Homo sapiens: one gene and its partners. The protein of the gene in region 7 purifies or fractionates together with the protein of the main gene of each other region. This does not show direct contact. Each region holds a gene or a part of one and is shown on either strand. Other genes may lie near its edges.

Region 1 (4,732 bases), on a different chromosome or scaffold from region 7:
GACGTTCTAGAATGCATGAGGTTTCTGGGGACTCCAGAGTGCCCGATGTTCGAAGGTTCTAGAGTGTTTGGAGCTCTGTGGTTCTAGGCTATTCTAAAATCTTACCTTCCAGAGTGTCCTCCACTGCCAGAATGTCTTAGGGCCTGTGCTTTTAGAATCTGAAAGTCTGATATTCTAGAAATTCCAGGGGCCTGTAGTTCTAGAATGGCTGAATCCTTCCCATAAAGATGATGACTTTCCACACATGGGGAGAGACCACGCTTACAACAGGTCCCATCCTTCACTGGGTGACCTGAGTGAGGTCAGTCCCTCCTGTCTTGGGACCTCCTCATTAATTAAGCCAAAATAGACTCTAGATAATTGCTTGGGGCCCTCTGGGGTTCTGAGACATTGGAAGCCAGCCTCAAATACCCAAAGCCTTGGGTCATCTCAGTGATCATCTCCAGCCTCTGGGATGCAGAATCCAGATTTCAAGCTCTAGAACCCAGAAATAAGACTACAGGACCAGAATAGAGACCCTGGGTTCCCAGACTCTAAATTCAGACTCTAGAGTCAAGATTCTAGCAATCTCAGAATCGTGAAAGCCAGGTCCCTGTCTCTCAATTCAGCCTTTTAAAAATTTATTTACTTATTTATTTATTTATTTAGATTTTTCATAGAGATGAGGTATTGCTGTGTTGCCCAGGCTGGTCTCAAACCCTTCAGTTCCAGCAATCCTCCTACCTCAGCCTCCCAAAGGCATGAGTCACTGGGCCCAGCCACAGTCCAGGTTTTCAATGCAAAAACAGATTTGAAACTCCAGACTGTATGTTCCAAAGTCTACTCCTGAAAGCTCAGAGGCTAGATCCACCCTGTAGAATCCAGACCCCAAGCCTGGCATGGTGTCTCACGCCTGTAATCCCAGCACTTTAGGAGGCTGAGTCAGGTGGATCACTTGAGATGAGGAGTTCGACACCAGCCTGGCCAACATGGTGAAACCCTGTCTCTACTAAAAATATAAAAATTAGCTGGGCGTGGTGGTGGTCGCCTGTAATCCCAGCTACTCAGGAGGCTGAGGCAGGAGAATCTATTGAGCCCAGGAAGTGGAGGTTGCAGTGATCTGAGATCACGCTATTGCACTCCAGCCTGGGTGACAAGAGCGAAACTTCATCTCAGAAAAAAAAAAAAAAAGAATCCAGACCCCACAATTCAAAATCCCAAATCTACCATTTGTAGTCTAGGCCCCAGGCTTCTCATAGCAGGTGCAAAGGTTTCCAGCCTCGATTGCCAGATTCCAAACACCAGATTCCAGGCTCCTATTGTGGGTTCTAGATTCGAATGCCCCGGGATCCAGAATCAAGGTTCACGATCTGTCACTCAAAGGCCCGACTCCAGGATCCAGATTCCAGACCCCCAGCCCAAGAACTCAGACTTTGAAATCCATATTCCAGACTGCAGGTCATTAATCTCCAACTCAAGATCCTCAAATCCAGAATCCAAGACCCAGATCCAGAACCAGATCCGGATCCAGAACCCGGGATCCAGAACTCTGCCCCAAGCCCAAGAACAGGGACTTTAGGATCCAGTTTCCACACTCCAGACCCCAAATTCCAGACTCTGTCTTTTGATCTCCTCCTAATTTCTGTTTTTGTCCTCCTGTCCCCTCCCCCTTGAGGAACTGCTCCTGGTGGAGAATTCCTCTTTGTGGACTCAGACAACAGCTTCAACCTAATAAATGCTCATTAGGCCAAGTCTCCCACCCCACCAGCAACCAAGGCGTCTCTGCCTGTAAACCTGACTCTCAGCCACCTCCCACCCCACCCTACACCACCACACCCCCAGACCCAGCTGGGACTGGGAGCTTATAAATTCAGGCATCCTGGTACCTGCTCCCTTCTGGCACCCAAGCTGCCCTAGATGCTGCTGGAGGATCTGGAGGAGGTGAGAGCTTTGAGACAAGACTGAGGGAGGGGCAAAGGGGAGATTCACTGTGCCCTGGTTTCAAGGGGAAACGTTGACCACGCTTGGAGAACTGAGTGTCAAGGGCATGGGTAGATCCACGTGTCCTTTACCAATGCCCCAAATTGAACCTGAACCAAGAAAATGTCCTGGAATGGCCAGAAGGAGCTGCAGTGGTGGGGAGGGAGGGGGATGGAGTGGATCAGGAGGACGTCCCTGAAGTACTTGTATCAGAGCCAAGAACGTGGTCAGGAGTGATCACGGGTTCAAGTCAGTTCAGCACAACCTCCCGGAGGCCTCCTGTGTACCAGGCCCCAGGTGGGGCAGTGCTGAGGTCACAGAAAGAACCTGACCTGAGCCCCATCTTCAAGACCCCCAGATGGAGAAAAGAACAGGCCAGACCTCAGCAAGTATGGGGCATCTGCGCTGTAATGGAGACAGAATGGGTGCTGTGGGATTCAGGGGAGACACCTGTTAGGTGTTGGGGCCTCCCAGAAGAGGTGGGGGCAGAGTGTCAGAGGACAAAGATGAATTTGGAAGATATGGGGAAGAAGGATTTCAATTCACCCTCAAAGCTTCCTGAGGCCTCCCGTGGGTCGGGCCCTGCAGTACTGGAGACCCAGAGTGGAGTCAGACCAGCTCCTCGGGGAGCTGCCAGTCTCGTAGGGGAGGCAGACACCACTGAGGGTCAGGGGAGGTCAGAGAAGGCCTCAAGGAGGAAGCGGGGCTGGAAGGGAATGGCGTTGGATATGCGGTGGGAGGAATAGCCTAAGCATGAAATGGCAGGAGGGAAAATGGCAGCACTGGCTGCGTCTAGGACAAGGTCATGGGAGACCCAGGGAGAGGGGCTGGAAGGGAAGAAGCCACTTTTGTCCTTGAAAGTGAGGCTGGAGCCAGGCAACTCATGCCTGTAATCCCAGCACTTTGGGAGGCTGAGGCGGGTGGATCACTAGAGGTCAGGAGTTCAAGACCAGCCTGGCCAACATGGTGAAACTCCGTCTCTACTAAAATTACAAAAATTAGCTGGGCGTGGTGGCACACACCTGTAATCCCAATTGCTTGGGAGGCTGAGGCAGGAGAATCTCTTGAACCCAGAAGGCAGAGGTTACAGTGAGCGGAGATCACGCCACTCCACTCCAACCTGGGCTACAGAGCCAGACTCCGTCTCAAAAAAAAAAAAAAAAAAGAAAAAAAAAGAAAGAAAGTGAATTTGAAGAGCTGGACTTTATCCTGGTGGTGCCAAGGATCCATGGAGGGTGGTGAGCAGGGGAGGGGCACAGCCAGCTCCAGATGTAGAAAGACCCTTTGGGGTCATGGCTGGAGGGCAAGCTGGTGGAGGGGACTGGACTGGAGGGGGACCCAAAAGGCCAGATAAGAGGGTTGAGATAGACCAGGCGCGGTGGCTCATGCCTGTAATCCCAGCACTTTGGGAGGCCGAGGTGGGTGGATCATGAAGTCAAGAGATTGAGGCCATCCTGGCTAACACGGTGAAACCCTGTCTCTACTTAAAAAAAAAAAATTTCCAAAAAATTAGCCGGGCACGGTGGTGGGCGCCTGTAGTCCCAGCTACTCGGGAGGCTGAGGCGGGAGAATGGTGTGAACCTGGGAGGTGGAGCTTGCAGTGAGCCGACATTGTGCCACTGCACTCCAGCCTGGGTGACAGAGTGAGACTCCGTCTCAAAAAAAAAAAAAAGTTGGGACAGGGGTCCTTGGTGATGATGGAGAGAGATCCAGGGGCTGGTAGCATGGTGCTGGAGGCTGACAGGTGGAGGAGGTGGGGCAGGGTCTGTCCGAGTGCCTAGAGGAAGAGTAAACCTTCCAGAGATGGGGGACCCAGAAGGAAGCGCAGAGTGGGGTTGGGGGAAGGGGATACCGGTGGTCAGAAGAAATTTATTAACAGTGGATGGGATAAGTCTGTGTCTGGAGGGATCCTGGTGGAGGCAGAAGGGTCCTGCCTCACCTGGATTCTCTCACTCCCTCCCCAGACTGCAGCCGAACCCTGGTCCCTCCTCCACAATGTGGCTTCTCCTCACTCTCTCCTTCCTGCTGGCATCCACAGGTGAGGTGGCCCCAGGAGGGGGCCAGGTCTGTGGGAGCAGGTGCCCCCTTCCCAAGCATGTCTGGGCCCAGTGATCTGCCAGCCCCTACCTCACCCAGAGACCACTAAAGATCCTTCCTTCACCCTCCACCTGTGCCAATGTCCCTAAGCCCTTACCGTCAGGTGCTGGTGCTGCTGCTCTGGAGTCGCTATGTTGCCTGGGGCCTCTCGCTGCCCACGACAAGGAACACGGTCCTGGGGTTACACAAACCTGAGCTGAGTCCTGGGGCAACCGCTTCCTTGCTGTGTGTCCTTGAGGGAACTGCTTCACCTCTCTGGGCTTCGAATGCCTTCTCTATAAGACAGCACCCACTTGAGACAATAACAGTGAGGTCTCAATAGCATAACAGAGGTAATATACATAGCAAGCATTAGACAAGTGCTGAGAGGCCAACAGCACAGACAGACTCCAGCTTGAGTCCCACACCTGCCACTCCCTGTCTCTTACAGGGTCTTTGAGGGGATTAAATGTGGTTGTGTGTGAGGCAGAAGCATAAGCCTGGCCCAGGTAGTGCCCCTTCAGGTGTGCAAGCCAGGCACGGTGCTTAGAGCTTACATACAACGTCTATGTGTGGTGGGCACCACCGACCTCATTTGACAAGGGAAGGGGCTGTGGCTCAGAGGGACGGCCACAACATCAAGGTCACCTTGGGTGTCAGGCAAACTCCAGATTGAACTCAGCTGCCACACACCAAG
Region 2 (4,586 bases), on a different chromosome or scaffold from region 7:
GTGCCTGGCTAATTTTGTATTTTTAGTAGACACGGAGTTTCACCATGTTGGCCAGGCTGGTCTCGAGCTCCTCACCTCAGGTGATCTGCCCACCTCGGCCTCCCGAAGTGCTGGGATTACAGGCGTGAGCCACCGCGCCCAGCCCCCCTGACTCTTTTGAACCTCAGCTCTTTCAAGGCCTCTTGAGCCTTCTGAAGCACAGCTCACCCTGATGAGTTCTTTGCCTCTCTTCCCATTTCCTACACATTCTGATTTTCAAAAGCTCCATCTAGACCAGGGTTAGCAAACTGTGGACAGTGGGGCACATCAGGCTTCTGGTCTGTTTTTGTAATAAAGATGTCCTGGAAATAGTCACATTCATTTCTGTATTGTTTGTGTCTGCTTTCATGCTACCATGGCACAGTCAAGTCATTACTATCCAAACCATCAAATAACCTAAAATATTCACTCTCTGGCCATTTACAGAATAAGCCTGCTGACCCTCTCCGATAAAACTTCCCATAATCATGGGAATGTTCTATATCTTTGCTGTCCAATATGGTAGCCACTAGCCACATGTGACTATTGAACATTTGAAATGTGGCAAGCAGGCCAAGCATGGTGGCTTACGCCTATAATCCCAGCACTGTGGGAGGTCAAGACAGGAGGATCACTGGAGCTCAGAAGTTCGAGGCAAGCCTGGGCAACATAGTGAGACCCCATCTCTACAACAATGTATAAAAATTAGCTGGGCATGGTGGCGCATGCCTGTAGTCCTAGCTACACAGGAGGCTGAGGTGGGATTATTGCTTGGACCTAGGAGGTCAAGGCTGCAGTAAGCTGAGATCACACCACTGCACTCCAGCCTGGGCAACACAGCAAGACCCTGTCTCAAAAAAAAAAAAAACAAAGAAAAGAAAAGAAAAGAAAAAAGCACTGAGGAAATGAATTGTTAACATTTTTAATGTAAGTAAATTTCAGCTGGGTGCAGTGACTCACACCTGTAATCCCAGCACTTTGAGAGGCCGAGGCAGGTGGATCACCTGAGGTCAGAAGCTCCAGACTGGCCTGGCCAACACAGTGAAACCCTGTCTCTACTAAAAATACAAAATTAGCCGGGCTTGGTGGCGCGTGCCTGTAATCCCAGCTACTTGGGAGGTGAGGTAGGAGAATTGCTTGAACCCGGGTGGCAGAGTTTGCAGTGAGCCAAGATTGTGCCATTGCACTTCAGCCTGGGCAACAAGAGTGAAACTCTGTCTCAATAATAATAGTAATAATAATTTAATTTAATTTTTTTTTTTGAGACAGAGTCTCACTCTGTTGCCCGGGGCTGGAGTGCAGTGGTGCAATCTTGTCTCACTGCAACCTCCAACTCCCAGGTTCAAGGGATTCTCCTGCCTCAGCCTCCTGAGTAGCTGGGATTACAGGCGTGAGCCACCGCACCTGGCCTAATTTAATTAAATTTAAATAGCCACAGCACATCAAGTCCAGCCTTCTGAGCTTCCCTCCACTGGCCTTACAAGATCCCTCACTCCCTTATTGCTTTCAGACCTCAAAGCCCTGTAGTATCATCCTAGGAATCTAGAAATGAGTCTCTCAAAATCTCACTTCGTCAACACAGTGCCTGAAATTCCACCATCAGTGTGCCAACTCCTTGAGTTTAGCATTTCCTTCACCCCCGATTCCAATTTTAAGTTGCAAATAGCCCAGTGAGGGTTACAGATGAAACGGGCAAAACCTCCCCGTGAAGTAGATGGTCCAAGGGCTGCCTGGTCTTTGGAAGCTGAAGTGGACATTGCAAAGGGAGCAATGGTGTCAAGGCTGGATGCCACGCCATTAGAGCTTAGGGTCCAGAGCCCACGGTGGGAATGAGGGCAGCTGCTATTGCTCTTACCTGCCAGGGCCAGCTGTAGGGGACCGCATCCTCACCATGGACAACGCGGCTGGAAGAGTGAGAGGAAGGTGGGCCATAGCCTGAGGCTAGAGGGGAGAGGAGAGCTGTCAATCAGCTGGAGGGTCCCCAAAAGCAAAGAGGAGGCCAGGGTCCCAGTCCAAGCCATGCCTTCAACTGGCTGTGTGACCCCATGCAAGCCCCTTTCGCCCTCTGGACCTCAGTAACCACATATGAACAGTGAACATTTAAACTAGAGCAGGGCTTTCCAGAATCCCAGGAGTCCAGGGATAGAGATTCAAATGTGGCCTCCTTCATTGGGAGGATTGAAGAGCTTGATACACTTAGAACAATGCCTGGCCCTCGATGAGCCCTCAAAAAGTGAGAGCTATTGTCATACAGAGTGGAGGCTTTAAAGAAGGACTTCCTGGGTTCAAAGTGCAGCTCTGGGCTGTGTGTGGTGGTTCACACCTGTAATCCTAGTGCTCTGAGAGGCCGAGGCGGGAGGATCGCTTGAGCCCGGGAGTTTGAGACCAGCCTGGGCAACATAGCAAGACCTCATCTCTAGAAAAATAAAGTACAATAAAATAAAGTAGCCAGGTATGGTGGCATGTGCCTATAATCTCAGCTACTCAGGAGGCTAAGGTGGTAGGATTGCTTGAGGCCAGGATTTTGAGACCAGTCTGGGCAACAAAGCAAGACCCCATCTCTACAAAAAAAAAGCAAAAAATAAAAACATTAAGTGCAGCTCTGCCTTTTGTTCTATGATAAGCTACTTTACTTCCTTGAGGGTCAGTAAAATGGGGGATAATGATAGTACTGATCTCCTGAGGCTGTTGTGAGAATTACATGAGAAAGTATAAGAAAATCCCTAAACATTCTGCCTGGCATAGTAAGCACTCAATCAATGTTATCTGTTACCATTATTGTCAGTCAAGGGAGGCTGTTTGGAAGAGGTGGCCCTGAGCTGGAATGTAATATGGCAGAGAGACCAGGAAAAGGCCAGAGCATAGAATATGGAGCCAGGTAGGGGGAGTGAGAGGAGAGTTGGAGTGGTAAGTAGAACTGTGGAAATTCCAACCCAAGAAGTCCAACCACACAGTCCAAACTCTTAACCGTTTGACTTTGTTTACTGCCCCCATCAAGGACTTCCACCACAGCCCTTTGGGGGTCTTTCACCATCCACAGCTTCCCCTCCACTCTCCTGCTCCATCATAAGCTGAAAGCCCCTACAGTCATGCCCCCGGGTACAAGCTGAGACCCCCTCCTGTGGAACCAGGCATAGCATGTCATGGGACTCAGAGCGAGTGGTAGATTTCAAGGATTCCTAGTCCAGGGCAGCCCAGGGAGCACACAGACAGGTTGGGGTCTTACCAACGGCCACAAGGAGGAGGGAACTGAGCAGCCGGAGCATCATGAGTTTTGTGATGATAGGAAAAGGGCACAGAGCCTGGGGCTCTAATATAGGGCAGAAGGTAAGCAGGGGGGCTGATTGGGCCCCACTCCCAGAACAGGTGGTGGAACTCCAGGTCTCCCATGGTCCAAGGCCACAGTCCTCGCCTGCTGCAGATGGACAAGTGACAGCCAAAGGGAGGACCTAGCGTTCCCTCCAACAGGTGGCTGGACAGGTGGTGTGGAGTGGCCAACTGATAACAAGAGTTCAGGAAGAAAAGCTCATGTCAGGACAAGACCTCCTCTTTCGGAAAGAACAGGGGCACTGGAACCGGGCAGACCACGGTTCAATCCTGGTTCTGCCACCTTCAAGCTCTGCGACTTTGGGCGCATGGCTTAACCTCTCTGAGTCTCAGTTTTCTGCTCTCTAACATGAGATTTATATTAGTACCCACCTCCACAAAAAAATTCTTGTTGAGCACTTTTTCTCTATGTATCAGGCACTGTTCTAGGGGATACAGCTGTGAAAAATGCATGGTCTCAGCCCTTCTAGAGTTTGAGTCTAGGCCAGGAGCGGTGGCTCACACCTGTGATCCCAGCGCTTTGGGAGGCCAAGGTGGGAGGATCACTTGAGGTCAGAAGTTCGAGACATGATGAAACCCTATCTCTACTAAAACTACAAAAATTAGCCAGGTGTGGTGGTGAGCACCTGTAATCCCAGCACCTGTAATCCTAGCTACTGGGAGGCTGAGGGAGGAGAATCACTTGAACCTGGGAGCGGAGAGGCAGAGGCTACAGAGAGCCGAGATCATGCCACTGCACTCCAGCCTGGGCCACAGAGCAACACTGTCTCAAAAAACAAAAACAAAACCAAAAAAAAAAACAGAGAAGAAAAGAAAATGAAACATAGGTGATTGGGGTAGGAATGGGAGTAAGTCATTTAGATGGGGGGGACAGAGAAAGTGACATTTGGGCTGAGGAGGTCATATCTGATGGAGTCCTGAGGATAAGTAAAAGCCAGCCACGGGAATCCCTGAAAGAAACGCGCTCTGAAGGGAGGCGACAGCAGGTGCGAAGTTCTGGAGGCTGCAATGGGCTTGACTTGTTCAAGGAAGGGGAGGCCAGTGTGACAGGAGCTTGGTAGTCAAAGTAGAGAGGGGTGGGAGATGAGGTCAAAGAGCAGGCGACCCCGAAAGTGGAATTCACAGGTGATCCAGCCGTTTCCCTCCTAGGTCTATACCGTGAGAAAACCTTAGGCATGTGCTCCAGGAGGTGTGGATGAGATTGTTTGCCGCAGCCCCTGTTCTCAAAACTCAACAGCAAA
Region 3 (4,005 bases), on a different chromosome or scaffold from region 7:
ACAATGGTGCAATCTTGGCTCACTGCAACCTCCGCCTCCCGGGTTCAAGCGATTCTCCTGCCTCAGCCTCCAGAGTAGCTGGGATTACAGGTGTGCACCACCACACTCAGCTAATTTTTGTATTTTTAGTAGACATGGGGTTTCACCATGTTGGCCAGGCTGGTCTCGAACTACTGACCTCAAGTGATCTGCCCACCTTGGCCTCCCAAAGTGCTGGGATTACAGGTGTGAGACACCGTGCCCGGCCTGTTACATATATTTTACAAAAAAGAAAAAAAAGACTTCCATCCAGAAGGTATACAAATATTTTCCTATAATTTCTTCTAATATTCTCATAGTTTTTCACCATTCAGTCCTTCAATCTATCTTGTGTTGATATGTATCTGTGTATAAAGCATATGAAACACAGATCACATTTTGTCATCTTGCAGTAGTAGAAAATACCATCTACAATGCCCTATCTAAAAGTTCTCTTTTTAAAAAAATGCAGTATCTTTGAGTGGTAAGATTATGGATGATTTTTATTTATTTTTTGCTTCTCTGTATTTCTACAAGTTCTACATTGAACATGCAGTACTTATGCCATTAAAAAATATAGGAGAGGGAGCCAGGCATGGTGGCTCATGCCTGTAATCCCAGCACTTTGGGAGGCCAAGGTGGGTGGATCAATTGCAGCCAGGAGTTAGAGACCAGCCTGGTCAACATGGAGAAACCCTGTCTCTACCAAAAATACAAAAATTAGCCAGGGATGGTGGCAGTCGCCTGTTGTCCCAGCTACTCGGGAGTCTGAGGCACAAGAATTGCTTGAACCTGGGAGAGGTTGTAGTGAGCCAAGATTGCACCACTGCACTCCAGTCTGGGTGACAGAGCAAGACTCTGTCTTAAAAAAAAAAAAAAAAGGAAAAAAATTATATATATATATATGGGAGGCCTGTAATCCCAGCACTTTGGGAGGCCAAGGCAGGTGAACTGCTTGAGTCCAGGAGTTCAAGACCCAGCCTGGGCAACAAAGGAAGGCTCTGTCTCTACAAAAAAATATAAAAATTAGCCAGGCATGGTGGCACGTGCCTGCGGTCCCAGCTACTTGGGAGGCTGAGGTGGGAAGACTGCTTGAGTCCAGGAGGCTAAGGCTGCAGTGAACCGAGATCACGCCACTGCACTCCACCCTGGGCAACATAGTGAGACCTCATTTCTATTAAAAAAAATAAAATATAGCGGATAAATCACCATTCTACCTAAACCCATCAGTGAGCAGCTTAATTATCAACTAACACCTTAGCACGCATCATGAGTCCTCAGTCAGATAAAAGGAAACAATAAAACAAAATACCACCCCATACATATAGAGTAATTCATAACTTATAAAATGTTTTTATACACTATACACCTAGGCTTTTGGACAGTGAAGCAAAGAGAATAGGAAGTGGAAAGTATGGTGATATCTGAGTATTTAGTGTGTGCCAGCTATAGTGTTAGGTATCTTATATACATTATCTCATTCAATCCTCCCAACACTGAGATAAGACACTAACTCTCATCTTAGTGGTAGACATACAGGCTCAGATAAATTGATACCTTGCCCAACCAGTCATTGCTGGGGCTTGGATTTGAACCTAGGTCTATTTGCTAAGATAATAGCTAATACACATAGTTATTATGTGCCAAGAAGTGTTTTAAGGCTTTACATAAATAACTTTATTTACTCTTCATAACAATGTTACAGGCAGGTGCTACGATGATTCCATTTACAGATGAGGCAACTGAAGCACACAGAGGTTAAGGTTCCTGCCCAAGTTAATAAATCTAGTACGAGGTAAACTGGTACCTGCACCAACAGTAACTGCCAAAACCCATGTACTTTCTACCACACTGGGCTCCTTTTCTTCCTCTCTTCATTCCGGAATGGAAAAACCACATAAGGGGAAGTGAAGAGGTGGGTGGAAGCATATACTACTTACCTGCCATTATGTGGCACTAAAATTATCTCTAATTCACAGAATCTAAATAATATTGACAAAAAATTGTAACATATTATGTAATGCCTGACAATGTATAAAGTGCTTTTATATTTTATCTCATTTAATTTCCAAATAATTATGTGAAGTAGATAGAGAAGACATCCTTGATTTATAGGAAAGAAAGCTTAGAGTGGTAAAGTGACTTGTCTGAGATGATAGAAGAAAAGGTCTGAAACGAGGTGTCTGTACTTCTTATAGAGTATTATTTTCAACTATGTTGTCACCTGCAAGAAGTAGTTGAAAAGCATCCCCTCATTCTGCCGAGATACCAGCTTACCTAGGCGAGCCCTTGTCCTGGGTCCCTGCATCTGACTCCGAAGTTCAGGCCTCAGATGAAACTTCTTTGCTTCATCAACCAGATCCCTGCATTGTAAACTACAGCGGATGAAAGGCTGAAATATAGCAGACAGCAGAGTTAGGCACTGGGGATACCTGTAATACTATAAGAGTACAAAGAGCACATGCAAATAATTAACTTCTGACTACAGAAAACCAGTTTGCAAAGCCCTGTGATTCCAGGAGTATTGCTGGTAGTAACCATGCTCTCGGTTTCCAGAAATGATTTTTAAAATTTACTTGAAAAATAGATAACATACTAGATGGATCAAAAATCAAATGATATAAACAGATATGTTGAGCAGTATTTCCCATCTATCGCAGCGCTTACATTTAACTATTTTTACATAGTTTGGATGCCCTTCCAGGGATTATGCAAACACAAGTACATAATAACTAATAAGAATTTTAAGGGGAAAACCAAAAAGATTCTGTTATTTTCTGGGTGACAGGAAGAATCATATTTTGTCTGAAATATCTCCCCCAAGGTTCACAGTCCTGTTGTAATTACCATTGTCTATTTCTGACAGCTCTGTACTGGACATCTTTCATTTGCCTCCCAACTCACTCTGTACCTTTTTCCACTCTGCTCTCTGGCTCAGAAGACTGGCCTATATGAACTGTGTCAATAGGGCTTCCTATGCCTTCTAGCTTCTGGTTGGGATCAGCCCAACCAAAGGTCAAGGTTTCTCTCAAGGCAGTGACTCTACACGATTCTCTTTCCTTTAAGGTTCTAGTAACCACTCCTCAACCTTGTCCCTTCAGGCTTAGGGGTTGTTAATAGCTTATGTCCTAGATCCAGGTTATTTCACTGTCTTTTGTTGTTTCTCTGAACTTGCGCCTTTGTAAACAGCTTCTTTATTAAAAAAAACTCTTCTAAAATTGTCCTGTTTTGAGTATAGCATCTGTTTCCTGTTGGGACCCTAAAGGACACAGCTCTAATTAAATGGCACCTCTATTAACCTGACCCAAGAAGTTCTTAGTCGAACTGGAAAGGAAAACAAACAATAAATAGTAGTAAACACTTATGTACAAAGACTTGGTTTTAAAAGTTTTCACATAGTAACTTACTCAATGCTAACAAGAACCTATGAGGAACGTACTATTATCATCCCTGTTTTACACATAAGAAAGCTAAGGCACAAATATATTAAGACATATTAAGTTCACAGAGTAAGTGGTGAATTTGGGATTTCAGGCCCGAGTCTGGTTCCAGAGTCTGTGCTCCTAAACACAATGTAAAGAACTAGACACAAGGGATATGTGAATTGGTTGTAAGAAAGACAGAAATCACAAACAGGAGAAAAAGAGTTTGAGATGTGACACTGACCATGCTGCAACTTTTCTAATGTGAACAACTGAAAAACTGTTTGTAGTTAACTAAGAGATCTAGGGCTGGGCCAGCAAGAGGAACTCTTCTTGCTGGGTTACCTACATATTATAAATCAATGCTCCCTCGAAGTATGGTCCAGGCAACACAGGTGGTATATATGGTAAAAATTATGAAAAAGTATCACAGAGAACTTAAGTTGGAGAAACACTTTTATAAATAAACTCAACATGATATGATTAAAGTTGACACTAAAATGCATCAAACTCCTTTCATGCTGGCTTTACCAGAAGTCAAAAATGAAGAGGCTTGCTAAGTGTG
Region 4 (4,005 bases), on a different chromosome or scaffold from region 7:
TTTTTGTTTAGATGGGAAAAATATTATCATCCAATAACACCAAGCCAAATGCTGGTTTAGAAGCAAAGAGCCTTGGAAGCAGTAAATGTTTAAAGTGAGTTTTTGAGATGATTAGAGTTACTGTGGTGAGGCAGAGAAGGGGTGTTTCCAAGGGAAGGAGCAGCGTGTGGGAAAGCACAGAAGAGTGAGAAGGAAGTGACTACATTTTATTTACTTCTATGCGTGTAAGTCCATAAGATCTTATATAAAGTTTCCACTTCGGTTGAGGAATATGTACTTTTTTGAATTACATAGGTTTTTGCTTTATATTGTTTTACAGCATGGCCTCACACCACTGTTACTTGGTGTACATGAGCAAAAACAGCAAGTCGTGAAATTTTTAATTAAGAAAAAAGCGAATTTAAATGCACTGGATAGATATGGAAGGTATAGTTCTTTCTTTTAATCTGTGTGTTGTAGATGGACAGCAGTCACTCAAGTCATAAATATTAAATTAATAAGATTAATGTATACTTACTGGGATGTAGTGATCAGTATCAACACAAATCAGTTAGGTAGAAAAACAATTACTTGGGCTGGGCAACATAAAGAACAGTTTTAGTAGGATTCATCTTCTCTTATTATATTGACTGATGTTATTTGTTATGTGACATTTTTGGTTACATGATCTTATGTTAGCTTAAAGGATTTCATATTAATTTTATGAAGTTTGAACTTTAACTTTTAGTTTACTTTATGACTCAGTATTGAACTTCTTAACCCTTTCTAATAGTTTTTAACCTGTGTCTTACATGCTTTTCCATTAAATATGCTGTATTAAACATAAATAGGGGTTGAAAATCCTTTTGTCTTTTTAATGACTTTGCTTTAAGTTGCTTTCTTTGAAGAATATTAGTGTTAGCTTATCCCTACATAACAATTAATTGCTGTTCCCACATACTGTGGGTTCAACAGCTTTTTTCCTTTTGTTTTTCCAGTGTATTTTGATGTTTTTATTTTTAATTGGTATGGAGAGAGGGAGTGAAGATAGTTTTAAGTGGATACACTTTTCCTTTAATGAAGACAAGCCGTACGTGGGTGATAAAGAGAAAAGAGCTAGGCTTTGGATTCACACAAGACTGGGTTTAATTAGTAACTTTCTTACTTGCTAGGTGTGTGACCTTGGGGACGTTATTTACCACCAAATATGTTGTCATATATGAAAAGTAGGAGAATATATCCTTCAAAGTTGGCTGTGCATAAGTAAGAAAGATATATGTGGCATTTAATTCAGTGCCTAGCACATGGTTATTGGCACCATTAACTGAAACTCCTATGACTACTATTCTTACCATTATTATTACTGCTTTGAGCATGCAGAGAGCTCTTATTTCTCTTACCCCCTAGCTGATTTTCTATTACAGCATGTCAGTCTAGGGAAGCTGTGACAAAATCTTCACTTAAATCTTTGTCCACCTCAGATAAGTGGCCCTAACATTGTTTCTTGCCCATCAAAGGACTTTAAATTAGTAGCTTCTGCTATGCAATACCCCACTGAGATAAGAGGGTTTTTTTTGGTCCCTTCCTTTTAACCTTGGTGGCATTTTACAAAGATGAACACTTGAGCACTCAGGTTGCTTATGTCTTTTAGTGCATGTAAATGTTTGATTCTGCACAGACAGGCAAGATGTTACATTGGTAAAGTATATCAAATTAGCTTTAAAAATAACTTTATTACAGTTCCTATCTCTGTCATTTTAGAACTGCTCTCATACTTGCTGTATGTTGTGGATCAGCAAGTATAGTCAGCCTTCTACTTGAGCAAAATATTGATGTATCTTCTCAAGATCTATCTGGACAGACGGCCAGAGAGTATGCTGTTTCTAGTCATCATCATGTGTAAGTGTTTACATTAAAAGGCTAGTTAATGCTGAATTGAGGTTTAAAATAATTATAACAGTTGCATCTCACATATCAGGTGAGATGTCATAGTTTGGTTCAGGTAGTTTTCGCGTGGCAGTGAGTTTTAGTCCCCTGCATCAGCCAGAAATCAGACAAAAAGCAAGACAAGTTAGAAGTACCAATGGGTGCGGGATTCTTTATCTCAGGACTTTTAAGATCTTTATCCTTAGAGATCCCAGCATTGTTCATTTGATCCAAGTGTAACACCTATGCAGGGATAAAAAATAGTGTCACATCTTTAATTTTTCTGATTAGTTATTTGGGTCTTGAAATGTCCAGTTTAGCGGAAAGTCTTGTACTGTCTTCTGGGGACTATGTCCTACATACTCCTTGAATTTTTCAAGAACCGAAGGAGTTCACTAAATCCAAGGAAGACAGTCCCTTTTATCAAGTCAGAAGGAGGAGGAAAAAAGACATTGCAATCATTCTGTTGTTTCCGTTGATTCTGTTGCTGCTTTGTGGCCACTCAAACTGGTCCTGCTGCCTTAAGATGAATCAGTAGATTCAGATCCCTCAAGTCTTCATGGCGATTCATACAGTGACTTTGATGTTTTTTAATTCCCATACCTATGCTTATATGCTCAGCCATTGTTCCCAGAGCACCAGCCCCCTGCTCTGGCCGCTGGGCATCCTGACTTTATCCGCACACAAAGTGACCAAATTGACCCTTCCCCGCATATTCAGAACCTAATGTGGAACCCACATCTTAGCCAGGAATTAGCTGAGACCTTCATGGTAAGAGATCCTTTGAGGCTGTTGTTGGTCTTTTCTCTGGCAGATGTTAGGTGGGCTTGTTCTAAAGGGTGAGAGGGGTTCAAATAATGTGGCAGAAGGAGGTCAGTGTCTGTTTCCTCTTTGCTACCAGATCTGTACTGTGAGGCACCTTTATATCCTGTATAGAACCTTGGGCAGTAGAAAGTCCCGTATGAACCTTGCCCTGAGCAGTGGCTCCCAGCTGTGGTTGGCCCCTTGAGTGATCTGATTTACATGATAATGAAAATTATCGGAGCTACTTCCATCTCTAGCTCAAGATTTTAAGATATTTTCAAACTCTAGCTCACAGGAAGCCATTGAAGAGAATTCTCAGAATCTCAAGTAGGTTAGTTGGACTTCACAGAGCCAAGCCTTGTCCATGACGCATCACTAATCATATGTAAAAGTAGGGCTTTGTGCTTGCTTCGGCGGCACATATCCTAAAATTGGAACAATACGGGGAAAGTTAGCGTGGCTTCTGCATAAGGAGGCAGGACAGATCTTTGAAGCATTCCATATTTTGTGCAGTCACTGGAAGGTCATTTGACTATTTTTGCTGACTAGCTCTGAGGAAATAGTGTGAATCAAAGCAAAATGGGTGCCACCCAAATATTGAAATTGTGATTTGTGCTGCAAAAATAGTCATGTAAGATGGTCTATGAGATGACTTTGAGCTGAATAACATGTTCCGTGCAAAATATATTGTTAGTATGTATGTCGAAAATTACAGAATGTCAGCTTGCTACTTCTCCGTGGAAACTAAAAAAAAAATAAAAGTAGACTTTTGGTCTCCCATGTCAGCTGGAATTGAACATCAATATAAAGCATTATCCTAACAGACATCTACTGGCTGAGAGTTTGAGTCGGTAGAGAAGGATCGTTGGTCCAAGTCAGGTCTTAACATCCATTGGTTTTTCTGCCCTTGGTGTGATTGATCAACTCCGTAATAGTGGACAATCACATTATCTACTTTAATGAGATATTTATGAATAAATTTAGTTATAAACTATGACATAGTTGAGATGCCCTGAATTATAAGCCATAAAGAGTAGGACAACTAAGAAGCAAAATTAGGACTTAATAACATTTTCTGAAAACTACAACATTTGCATATTAGAACCTATGAACAAAATACGCATTGGGTTTTATTTGGGATTCCAAGATAATTTTAGTCATAAAGTTTAGGAACAGATTATTCCATTGCTTTACTATTTCTCTGAGCATTTAAAAAATGTTATCTCGTTAAATCTTTATAACAACCTAGTGAAATAAGGCAGCAAAGTCCTCACTTTGTTGAAGAAGACATTGAGC
Region 5 (4,005 bases), on a different chromosome or scaffold from region 7:
CACAGCAGGATGTGTGAGCCGGGGCTCTGTCCCAAGGCTGTGTGACCTCAGCGGCCTTGAGAACAGACACCAGCAGGTGGTCATGGCTTGACAGATACCCAGAGTGAGTGTCACATAGAGACCCAGGCACACCCCGCTGCTGATACATCAGGGCCCATCCCCATAACACAGGGACACATTCGAGATGCAGCCTCAGATCCCATGCGCATAACACAGACCACACACCAGCCACACAGAGCTGCTCACCTGGGTAGGCGTGTGTGCACACACACGCATGTGCACGGAGGGTCAACGCAGATGCCACACCAGGATGTGGTTTCAAACATGGCCACCTAATTCAGAAACACAGACACAGACTCAGATATACACTGACAGAGAAACTCACACACACACTGACACGCACACACACACACAGCAATGCAGGCATAACCTGGTGACAGAGAGACATGAGAGTCAGGCACAGAGAGTGTCCTCAGATGTTCAAATCTAAACAGTCTTAGACATAAGCTCTCACAGAGAGGCAGAGCTGGAGACACAGAGACAGAGATCCACACACAGAGAACCAAAGAAGCTGCCTTGTAGAATGTAAAGTCAGGCATGCAGCCAGTCAGACAGACACATGGACAGACAGCCGCATCCCAGACTCAACATGTGCAGGAGGACAGACACACACACAAAACAGATGGACAAGTCGGGCATGGTGGCTCACGCCTGTCATCCCAGCACCTTGGGAGGCCAAGGCAGGAGGGTAACTTGAGACCAGGAGTTCCAGTAGCCTGAGTAACATACCCAGACAGACCCAGCCTCTAAAAAAACACAAAACATAGCCGGGCCTGGTGGCGCACACCTGTAGTCCTAGCTACTCCGGAGGCTGAGGAGGGAGGATTGCTTGAATCTGGGAGGTTGAGGCTACAGTGAACTGAGATTGTGCCACTGTACTCCATCCTAGGCAGCAGAGCGAGACCCTGTCTCAAAAAAAAAAAAAAAAAAAAATGCCAGGAAAGATGGCTCACACCTGTAATCCCAGCACTTTGGGAGGCCAAGGTGATAGATCACAAGGTCAGGAGATCAAGACCATCCTAGCCAACATGGTGAAGCCCCATCTCTACTAAAAATACACAAAATTAGCCAGGTGTGGTGGCATGCACCTGTAGTCCCAGCTACTCAGGAGGCTGAGGCAGGAGGATCGCTTGAACCAGGAGGCGGAGATTGCAGTGAGCCAAGATCATGCCATTGCACTCCAGCCTGGGCGACAGAGTGAGACTCTGTCTCAAAAAAAAAATCGACAGACCCTTAGATTCAAACACAACCATTACAGAAAGAGGGACTCAAGCACAAACAGGGGAGACTCAGACACACCAACCCTCATAACCAACCTAGGGTCAGACACACAAATACAGACCCCCACTGACACAAAGCTCCCTTCCCAGACTCCAGGCGAGCAGGGACTGGTGGAGAGTGGCTTGGGCGGCCCCTGATCAACATCCCCACATCTCCCCACAGCTGTACCTGGGCATCGTGCTGGCGGCCGTGGTGATCATCACTGGCTGCTTCTCCTACTACCAGGAGGCCAAGAGCTCCAAGATCATGGAGTCCTTCAAGAACATGGTGCCCCAGGTGAAGGGTGCCCAGCAAGGGGCCAGACGGGGGTGTTAGTGTATGGGCTGGGGGCCGGGCCCAGTGACCCCCAGGCAGAGGGAGTCTGGGAGGTGACATTACTCCATCCCACCTCAGCAAGCCCTGGTGATCCGGGAAGGTGAGAAGATGCAGGTGAACGCTGAGGAGGTGGTGGTCGGGGACCTGGTGGAGATCAAGGGTGGAGACCGAGTGCCAGCTGACCTGCGGATCATCTCAGCCCACGGCTGCAAGGTGGGCCTGGGCCTAGGGCCCGGCTTTACCCTCCCTCGGGCTGCCCAGGAGCTCAGGCCCAGCCCCTCCTCCCTCACACTCAGGAGTCCAGGTCCCAACCCCTCCTCCCTCAGACCCAGGAGTCCAGGCCCCCAGGCCCTCCTCCCTCAGACCCAGGAGTTTAGGCCCTGGGCCACCTCCTCACCCAACAGTCAGGAGTCCAGGCCCAGCCCTCACCTTTCGGAGATCCTTAGGGACCCTAGACCTTGGCCAGCAGCACTGTGCCTTCCCCACCTTCAAGATCCCAGCCTCTGGCCTCCCACACACCACTCACCCACTGGGCACCCAGGCTTCTAGCTGTGATCTCCAGGCACACAGGCTTCAGCCCCAAGCCCTGTACACAAATACCCTCCTGTCCCAGGCCCTGGACTGAACCCTCTCTCTGCTGCACCTACCCCCAGGTGGACAACTCCTCCCTGACTGGCGAATCCGAGCCCCAGACTCGCTCTCCCGACTGCACTCACGACAACCCCTTGGAGACTCGGAACATCACCTTCTTTTCCACCAACTGTGTGGAAGGTGAGGCGGGTGCAGAGAAGACACACAGCTGGGGCAGACACAGGGATGTGTCCCAGGGGGTCAGGCCTCCAGAACCTCCCTGAGCCACCCCACCTCAGCCTAACCCCTCTGGCCTGCAGGCACGGCTCGGGGCGTGGTGGTGGCCACGGGCGACCGCACTGTCATGGGCCGTATCGCCACCCTGGCATCAGGGCTGGAGGTGGGCAAGACGCCCATCGCCATCGAGATTGAGCACTTCATCCAGCTCATCACCGGCGTGGCTGTCTTCCTGGGTGTCTCCTTCTTCATCCTCTCCCTCATTCTCGGATACACCTGGCTTGAGGCTGTCATCTTCCTCATCGGCATCATCGTGGCCAATGTCCCAGAGGGTCTGCTGGCCACTGTCACTGTAAGGCCAGGCTCCTGGGTCTGGGTGGGGAGGGCCTGGGGGTCTGGGCTCCTGGGTCTGAGGGAGGAGGGGCTGGGATCCTGGACCCCTGAGTCTGAGGGAGGAGGGGCTAGAGGCCTGGACCCGTGTGTCTGGGGGAGGAGGGGCTGGGATCTGGACCCCTGGGTCCGGAGAAGGGGCTGGGGGCCTGGATCACAGTATTCTTGTGAAAGACAACTTGGGCCTGACTCAGAGGGCCTCATTAACAAAGCAAACAATCAAAGAAAGAAACAAACAAAAATCTTGAGAAACACTGGCAAGCCGTAAAGAGCCAACAATCCTATTGCAAAATTAAGAAGTGCACGCTCATGATGAAAAGTTGAAGAGTACATCAAGTTAAAAAATAAAATAATGAGGCTGGGTGCACTGGCTCACGCTGTAATCCCAGCACTTTGGGGGGCCAAGGCGGGCAGATCAGCTGAGGTCAGGAGTTCAAGACTAGCCTGGCCAACATGGTGAAACCCTGTCTCTACTGAAAATACAAAATTAGTGGGGCGTGGTGGCACATGCCTGTAATCCCAGCTACTCAGGAGGCTGAGGCAGGAGAATCGCTTGAACCTGGGAGGCGGAGGTTGCAGTGAGCCAAGATCACGCCATTGCACTCCAGCCTGGGTGACAAGAGTGAAACTCCATCTCAAAAATAAATAAATAAATAAATAAAATAAAATAATAAGCCTGGCGCAGTGGCTCACGCCTTTAATCCCAACAGTTTGGGAGGCTGAGGCAGGAGGACTGCTTGAGGTCAGGAGTTTGAGACAAGCCTGGACAACATAGTAAGAACCCATCTCTACCAAAAAATGTGAAGGCTGGGCGCAGTGGCTCATGCCTGTAGTCCCAAGACTTTGGGAGGCCGAGGCGGGTGGATCACCTGAGGTCAGGAGTTCGAGACCAGACTGGCCAACATGGCAAAACCCCATCTCTACTAAAAGTATAAAAATTAGCCAGGCGTGGTGATGGGTGCCTGGAATCCCAGCTACTCAGGAGGCTGAGACAGGAGAATAGCTTGAGCCTAGGAGGCAGAGCTTGCAGTGAGCCGAGATCGTGCCACCTCACTCCAGCCTGGGCGACAAAAGCGAGATTCTGTCTCAAAAAAAAAAAAAAAAAAAAAAAAATTTTTTTAAATTAGCCAGGCGTGGTGGTACATGTCTGTA
Region 6 (3,535 bases), on a different chromosome or scaffold from region 7:
GGAAAACAGTTGGGAAAATGGTCAGCCCTCCTGAAATGCAGCAGGTGGTGATTTTTGTGTTTTGAGTCTTGGCACACCTTGCTGTTGAAGCAGTTGAACAAATAAAGGAATGGAAAAACAGGTGCTGACCCAAAGCTTGAGACAGCTGGTTGGTTGCCCTTCGTTGAAAACCACACGGCCAACCCAGAGTCTTCAGGTTTGGGGCGCAGTTAAGCTGTGGGGCACCCTGCGTAGGCTCACTGTGTTTCCAGAGGCTTTATGACTGCACACTGGGGCCGCCTGAGACCCAGGTTTATATGTGAATTTAGCAGACAAGTAAAAAGTGCTGAGTCACATTATAAATGCAAATTTGGAGGAGGATTTGAAATGCTTTCATTAAGACACCAAAGCAGGACACTTGTAATACAGCAGTGCCAGGAGAGGACAACCCTGCCATTCTTTGGGGACCTAGATAAAATGGCTCCACTGTCCCCTGCTGAGAGTGAGCAGGCCATCAGCATCGCGGTGGCCGGGGCTCAGCTGCCTGACGTTTCTTTGGCCCCTGTACTGTGTTGATTTCACACACTGGGCACAGCCATGCTGGCGGTGTCTTGAGAACACAGCCATGAAAAGATGGAGAAAGCAAACACAGTTTCTGTCTTGGAGCACCACATGGATTTAGATTCAGAGTATGATTTATTTTGTTTTGGAGAGTTTTATTATGAATTTTTTTTCTCCCTTCTTTGCAAAGACATTACAGAGCTAAACCCAAACAGCTGAGCCTATCAGGGCCTTGGAAAAGCATTTTTGCCTGAAACTTGAGTTTTTCCTAATGAAGTGACTTTCCTCTTCCATCTTTTTTGTTTGCTTGGTTTTCTCATAGGTCATTTGATTGCCCGCCTCAGAACGATGGATCTGCATCTCTTCGACTACTCAGAGCCAGGGAACTTCTCGGACATCAGCTGGCCATGCAACAGCAGCGACTGCATCGTGGTGGACACGGTGATGTGTCCCAACATGCCCAACAAAAGCGTCCTGCTCTACACGCTCTCCTTCATTTACATTTTCATCTTCGTCATCGGCATGATTGCCAACTCCGTGGTGGTCTGGGTGAATATCCAGGCCAAGACCACAGGCTATGACACGCACTGCTACATCTTGAACCTGGCCATTGCCGACCTGTGGGTTGTCCTCACCATCCCAGTCTGGGTGGTCAGTCTCGTGCAGCACAACCAGTGGCCCATGGGCGAGCTCACGTGCAAAGTCACACACCTCATCTTCTCCATCAACCTCTTCGGCAGCATTTTCTTCCTCACGTGCATGAGCGTGGACCGCTACCTCTCCATCACCTACTTCACCAACACCCCCAGCAGCAGGAAGAAGATGGTACGCCGTGTCGTCTGCATCCTGGTGTGGCTGCTGGCCTTCTGCGTGTCTCTGCCTGACACCTACTACCTGAAGACCGTCACGTCTGCGTCCAACAATGAGACCTACTGCCGGTCCTTCTACCCCGAGCACAGCATCAAGGAGTGGCTGATCGGCATGGAGCTGGTCTCCGTTGTCTTGGGCTTTGCCGTTCCCTTCTCCATTATCGCTGTCTTCTACTTCCTGCTGGCCAGAGCCATCTCGGCGTCCAGTGACCAGGAGAAGCACAGCAGCCGGAAGATCATCTTCTCCTACGTGGTGGTCTTCCTTGTCTGCTGGCTGCCCTACCACGTGGCGGTGCTGCTGGACATCTTCTCCATCCTGCACTACATCCCTTTCACCTGCCGGCTGGAGCACGCCCTCTTCACGGCCCTGCATGTCACACAGTGCCTGTCGCTGGTGCACTGCTGCGTCAACCCTGTCCTCTACAGCTTCATCAATCGCAACTACAGGTACGAGCTGATGAAGGCCTTCATCTTCAAGTACTCGGCCAAAACAGGGCTCACCAAGCTCATCGATGCCTCCAGAGTCTCAGAGACGGAGTACTCTGCCTTGGAGCAGAGCACCAAATGATCTGCCCTGGAGAGGCTCTGGGACGGGTTTACTTGTTTTTGAACAGGGTGATGGGCCCTATGGTTTTCTAGAGCAAAGCAAAGTAGCTTCGGGTCTTGATGCTTGAGTAGAGTGAAGAGGGGAGCACGTGCCCCCTGCATCCATTCTCTCTTTCTCTTGATGACGCAGCTGTCATTTGGCTGTGCGTGCTGACAGTTTTGCAACAGGCAGAGCTGTGTCGCACAGCAGTGCTGTGCGTCAGAGCCAGCTGAGGACAGGCTTGCCTGGACTTCTGTAAGATAGGATTTTCTGTGTTTCCTGAATTTTTTATATGGTGATTTGTATTTAAATTTTAAGACTTTATTTTCTCACTATTGGTGTACCTTATAAATGTATTTGAAAGTTAAATATATTTTAAATATTGTTTGGGAGGCATAGTGCTGACATATATTCAGAGTGTTGTAGTTTTAAGGTTAGCGTGACTTCAGTTTTGACTAAGGATGACACTAATTGTTAGCTGTTTTGAAATTATATATATATAAATATATATAAATATATAAATATATGCCAGTCTTGGCTGAAATGTTTTATTTACCATAGTTTTATATCTGTGTGGTGTTTTGTACCGGCACGGGATATGGAACGAAAACTGCTTTGTAATGCAGTTTGTGACATTAATAGTATTGTAAAGTTACATTTTAAAATAAACAAAAAACTGTTCTGGACTGCAAATCTGCACACACAACGAACAGTTGCATTTCAGAGAGTTCTCTCAATTTGTAAGTTATTTTTTTTTAATAAAGATTTTTGTTTCCTAAAAATGCATCAAGTCTCAGTTTTCAAAGTGTGTTTTGGCACTTGAATAGCACACATGATAATAATTCATGGATATATATGGCACACACAGGCCACCTGCATGAACATGCTCAGAAAAAGAGTGCTGCTGTAAAGCAAAAGCTACCAGGTTAACTTGTTTGAAATGATATAAAAAGAAAAAATCATTTGAGCACACTGCATGGTTTTTAAAAAAATTTTCAGGCAATAGTGTTTTTGGTGTGGGGGATGATTGCTAGGGTCCAGCTAGGAGAGAAGGCTGGCACAGAGAAGGTGCCACTTGCTTCTACTTCCTGCTGGCCAGAGCCATCTCTGTTCTGAACCTGTCTGAACTCTCCGTCCAGACAGGAGAGTTTCAGGGTGCAGGACTGGTGTCCTCATCTGTACCACCTGTGTGCTTCCAGGGCCAGTGGCACAGCCCCTTAAATCTCATCTGCTAAGGTAAACACCTCCAGGGGCAATATTTCCTATTGAGAGTTTTCATTTAAACCATGCCAATCAGCTACCCCCTTGAGGCCACACAATGAGCGAATCCCCAGCTTGCGCATGTCCTTACTAGTGGTTGGAAAGAGTGCTCTCAGAATGGCCAGTTCCTGCTGTGCCCTCTCTAACTCTACCTGGAGCCACAAGAATGGCGGAGACTTCAACAGACGAGTCAGCTGGGCAGGGGCTCAGAGAGGGGCTGGGCTCCCAGCACTGCCCTCACCACCTCCACCTCTGCCAAGACCTCTCTGCACAGAGAGCT
Region 7 (3,523 bases):
GTAGCCTTCTGTACACCAGGCATATGGTACTGGGTGAGAGTCTTGGGGAATAAAACAGAATCAGACATTGCCCATGAGGAGCCCACAGACTAGCCAGACGGGGTGGGTGTCTGTGTTTTTGGTTTGGTTGAAGTTGAGTTGACCACTTTATCCGCTGTTGATTTTTGCTTTGGCTAGGTGTCTGCCTGTATCCCAGTGTTCAGGCTGGCTAGACGGCGGAAGAAGATCCTATTTTACTGTCACTTCCCAGATCTGCTTCTCACCAAGAGAGATTCTTTTCTTAAACGACTATACAGGGCCCCAATTGACTGGATAGAGGAATACACCACAGGCATGGCAGACTGCATCTTAGTCAACAGCCAGTTCACAGCTGCTGTTTTTAAGGAAACATTCAAGTCCCTGTCTCACATAGACCCTGATGTCCTCTATCCATCTCTAAATGTCACCAGCTTTGACTCAGTTGTTCCTGAAAAGCTGGATGACCTAGTCCCCAAGGGGAAAAAATTCCTGCTGCTCTCCATCAACAGATACGAAAGGAAGAAAAATCTGACTTTGGCACTGGAAGCCCTAGTACAGCTGCGTGGAAGATTGACATCCCAAGATTGGGAGAGGGTTCATCTGATCGTGGCAGGTGGTTATGACGAGAGAGTCCTGGAGAATGTGGAACATTATCAGGAATTGAAGAAAATGGTCCAACAGTCCGACCTTGGCCAGTATGTGACCTTCTTGAGGTCTTTCTCAGACAAACAGAAAATCTCCCTCCTCCACAGCTGCACGTGTGTGCTTTACACACCAAGCAATGAGCACTTTGGCATTGTCCCTCTGGAAGCCATGTACATGCAGTGCCCAGTCATTGCTGTTAATTCGGGTGGACCCTTGGAGTCCATTGACCACAGTGTCACAGGGTTTCTGTGTGAGCCTGACCCGGTGCACTTCTCAGAAGCAATAGAAAAGTTCATCCGTGAACCTTCCTTAAAAGCCACCATGGGCCTGGCTGGAAGAGCCAGAGTGAAGGAAAAATTTTCCCCTGAAGCATTTACAGAACAGCTCTACCGATATGTTACCAAACTGCTGGTATAATCAGATTGTTTTTAAGATCTCCATTAATGTCATTTTTATGGATTGTAGACCCAGTTTTGAAACCAAAAAAGAAACCTAGAATCTAATGCAGAAGAGATCTTTTAAAAAATAAACTTGAGTCTTGAATGTGAGCCACTTTCCTATATACCACACCTCCCTGTCCACTTTTCAGAAAAACCATGTCTTTTATGCTATAATCATTCCAAATTTTGCCAGTGTTAAGTTACAAATGTGGTGTCATTCCATGTTCAGCAGAGTATTTTAATTATATTTTCTCGGGATTATTGCTCTTCTGTCTATAAATTTTGAATGATACTGTGCCTTAATTGGTTTTCATAGTTTAAGTGTGTATCATTATCAAAGTTGATTAATTTGGCTTCATAGTATAATGAGAGCAGGGCTATTGTAGTTCCCAGATTCAATCCACCGAAGTGTTCACTGTCATCTGTTAGGGAATTTTTGTTTGTCCTGTCTTTGCCTGGATCCATAGCGAGAGTGCTCTGTATTTTTTTTAAGATAATTTGTATTTTTGCACACTGAGATATAATAAAAGGTGTTTATCATAAAAAAGAAACAGTATTAGATTTTGGTCTCCATAATCTATTTTGGTATTGTTACGAACATGGATATGACAACCAAACTGGAAATCAGAACACTAGGGTAAAGTGGATATTGAAATGAAGCAAGAATATTGTCACACATGTGTTGTGCATCTTGTTTAGGGTATATTTCTTAATGTCATCTAGGTCATTAGTTTTGTTAATATTTGTGTTGTCTTGACCAAGCTCCTACTAAGTATAGGACACAAATGTTTTTTATCTTCCAAGGCCTGGCTCAAATGCCACTGCTGCAAAGCTTTCTTTGACCCTCTGGCCACCTCCCAAGCCAGAAGTTATCTTCCCCCTCCATGTACTCTAGCCTTTTCATGACACTGATATTTTCGTGACACTGACTTATAGTTCACTGTTTACCTGTTGGTCTAACAGCAAATCATAAACAGTAGTTTTCAACATACTTCTAAGGCTAAATTCATTTCCAGAAGTAGCAAAGCTTACTAGCCAAAGGCTCCACATTTATCAACTCTTAAGAGCTAGACTTGAGAGCCTAACAGCCTATATGATTTTGTGTAAATTGATCTCTATACCTCAGCTTCTTCATCTGCAAAGTGAGATAATTGTACTATTCTACTTTCCTCATAGTGCGGTTATAACAGATTATGATAATATTACAAAGTACTTAATACTTGGCATATAGTATATATATTAGCTATTAGTATTTTGCAATTTGGGGATATTGAAAATTAGAAATTGCATGTTAGTTCATGCTGCACTACCATATTGTTCTTTTGGGGCTCTTCAATGGGTGAAATTCCATTTTACAGTTTATCATGTGCATCTGTATCACAGGAGTATTTTGGCAAAATGATTCTGTACCAAAAAGGAGTACTATAAAATGAGGGTGCCAAATATATTGAGTCTTTTATGGGATTAAAAGTTCTGTTGCATTCCATTTTCTTTGGCATTGTGAAAGCTTACCATGTAGTACAGAAGGTATGATTTGGTTCATGTGTTTCTGAGAAATGCAGCCTTTCCAGGAAGCCTGGTGGCTCTTACCATGGAGTTTAGCACAGATAGACTTGGCCACACTGTGACCTACAACATGGTGCTTACCTTACTAAGCAGCACTAAACATTTGCATATTTGACCATTTTTATGCAAATCCTTTCAAATGGACTACATGGGTTCATGGACCCTGATTTTAGCTTCACTTCATTGTCCTAAGCCGGAGTGAGTGACAATAAGATTTCACAGGTCTGGGAGGGATGGAGTCCTGCCTGCCATGAGCTTCCAGCTTCTGACCATTAGTTCCTGGTTCCTGGACCCTAGAATGGAACTTTGCCCTTAAGAAGTGTTCACACCTTCCAAAACTAAGCTGAAGTTAGGGAAAGTAGAAGCATGAAACATTGAAGGTGAATTGTTGGGGCCTTATCCATAGTAATTCTGGTAATTACTTTGTGCAGGGCAGGAAAGGAGATACATACATAGCAGATGCTTAATCCTCAACAATTCACTGAGATGTAGGTATTCTTCCCTTTTAGATGAATGTAGTTAAGCAAGTTGCCTGCGTCCCATGGCCTTGAAGAATGGACAGAATCTCAAGGCCCTCTGATTCCAAAGTCCAACCACTTTACTATTCTTCAGTCTGCCCTCACCCTAACCAAATTCTTTGTGTAATGTTTTTTCAGTACAACTCCCTCTGCAGCACTGCAGTTGTAGTTGTACAGGTCTTTGGGTTTAGAAAGACTTTGCTGTTTACTGTCCATTTGCCTCTTCCCATCAGTCTTCCGAGGTGAGTATGATTATCCCCCATCTTACACACAAGCTCAGAGAGGTGAAAGACTTGCCTGAAGGCACACAATTGAAAAGTAACTGAGCCAGCATTT

The links.
Region 1: the proteins of ALG2 (region 7) and KLK15 purify together in Homo sapiens (co-immunoprecipitation; one large-scale study listed by IntAct). This does not show direct contact.
Region 2: the proteins of ALG2 (region 7) and CELA3A purify together in Homo sapiens (co-immunoprecipitation; one large-scale study listed by IntAct). This does not show direct contact.
Region 3: the proteins of ALG2 (region 7) and KLHL12 purify together in Homo sapiens (co-immunoprecipitation; one large-scale study listed by IntAct). This does not show direct contact.
Region 4: the proteins of ALG2 (region 7) and POTEF purify together in Homo sapiens (affinity purification with mass spectrometry; one large-scale study listed by BioGRID and IntAct). This does not show direct contact.
Region 5: the proteins of ALG2 (region 7) and ATP1A3 purify together in Homo sapiens (affinity purification with mass spectrometry; one large-scale study listed by BioGRID and IntAct). This does not show direct contact.
Region 6: the proteins of ALG2 (region 7) and ACKR3 purify together in Homo sapiens (co-immunoprecipitation; one large-scale study listed by IntAct). This does not show direct contact.

Annotation. Positions count from the first base shown.
Region 1 is NC_000019.10:50,830,715-50,835,446, reverse strand, and holds the start of KLK15 (kallikrein-15 isoform 4 preproprotein), read left to right. Parts: upstream 1-1,872; 5' UTR 1,873-1,920; intron 1,921-3,923; 5' UTR 3,924-3,954; coding exon 3,955-3,997; intron 3,998-4,153; exon of another isoform or gene 4,154-4,348; intron 4,349-4,732. UniProt on the Homo sapiens protein: Protease whose physiological substrate is not yet known.
Region 2 is NC_000001.11:22,000,376-22,004,961, reverse strand, and holds the start of CELA3A (chymotrypsin-like elastase family member 3A preproprotein), read right to left. Parts: upstream 3,306-4,586; 5' UTR 3,288-3,305; coding exon 3,245-3,287; intron 1,960-3,244; coding exon 1,874-1,959; intron 1-1,873. UniProt on the Homo sapiens protein: Efficient protease with alanine specificity but only little elastolytic activity.
Region 3 is NC_000001.11:202,906,715-202,910,719, forward strand, and holds part of KLHL12 (kelch-like protein 12), read right to left. Parts: intron 2,411-4,005; coding exon 2,296-2,410; intron 1-2,295. UniProt on the Homo sapiens protein: Substrate-specific adapter of a BCR (BTB-CUL3-RBX1) E3 ubiquitin ligase complex that acts as a negative regulator of Wnt signaling pathway and ER-Golgi transport.
Region 4 is NC_000002.12:130,108,416-130,112,420, reverse strand, and holds part of POTEF (POTE ankyrin domain family member F), read left to right. Parts: intron 1-319; coding exon 320-426; intron 427-1,740; coding exon 1,741-1,878; intron 1,879-2,063; exon of another isoform or gene 2,064-3,134; intron 3,135-4,005.
Region 5 is NC_000019.10:41,983,728-41,987,732, reverse strand, and holds part of ATP1A3 (sodium/potassium-transporting ATPase subunit alpha-3), read left to right. Parts: intron 1-1,503; coding exon 1,504-1,617; intron 1,618-1,734; coding exon 1,735-1,869; intron 1,870-2,309; coding exon 2,310-2,427; intron 2,428-2,546; coding exon 2,547-2,815; intron 2,816-4,005. UniProt on the Homo sapiens protein: This is the catalytic component of the active enzyme, which catalyzes the hydrolysis of ATP coupled with the exchange of sodium and potassium ions across the plasma membrane.
Region 6 is NC_000002.12:236,579,578-236,583,112, forward strand, and holds the end of ACKR3 (atypical chemokine receptor 3), read left to right. Parts: intron 1-862; 5' UTR 863-888; coding exon 889-1,977; 3' UTR 1,978-2,777; downstream 2,778-3,535. UniProt on the Homo sapiens protein: Atypical chemokine receptor that controls chemokine levels and localization via high-affinity chemokine binding that is uncoupled from classic ligand-driven signal transduction cascades, resulting instead in chemokine sequestration, degradation, or transcytosis.
Region 7 is NC_000009.12:99,215,491-99,219,013, reverse strand, and holds the end of ALG2 (alpha-1,3/1,6-mannosyltransferase ALG2), read left to right. Parts: intron 1-177; coding exon 178-1,080; 3' UTR 1,081-2,589; downstream 2,590-3,523. UniProt on the Homo sapiens protein: Mannosyltransferase that operates in the biosynthetic pathway of dolichol-linked oligosaccharides, the glycan precursors employed in protein asparagine (N)-glycosylation.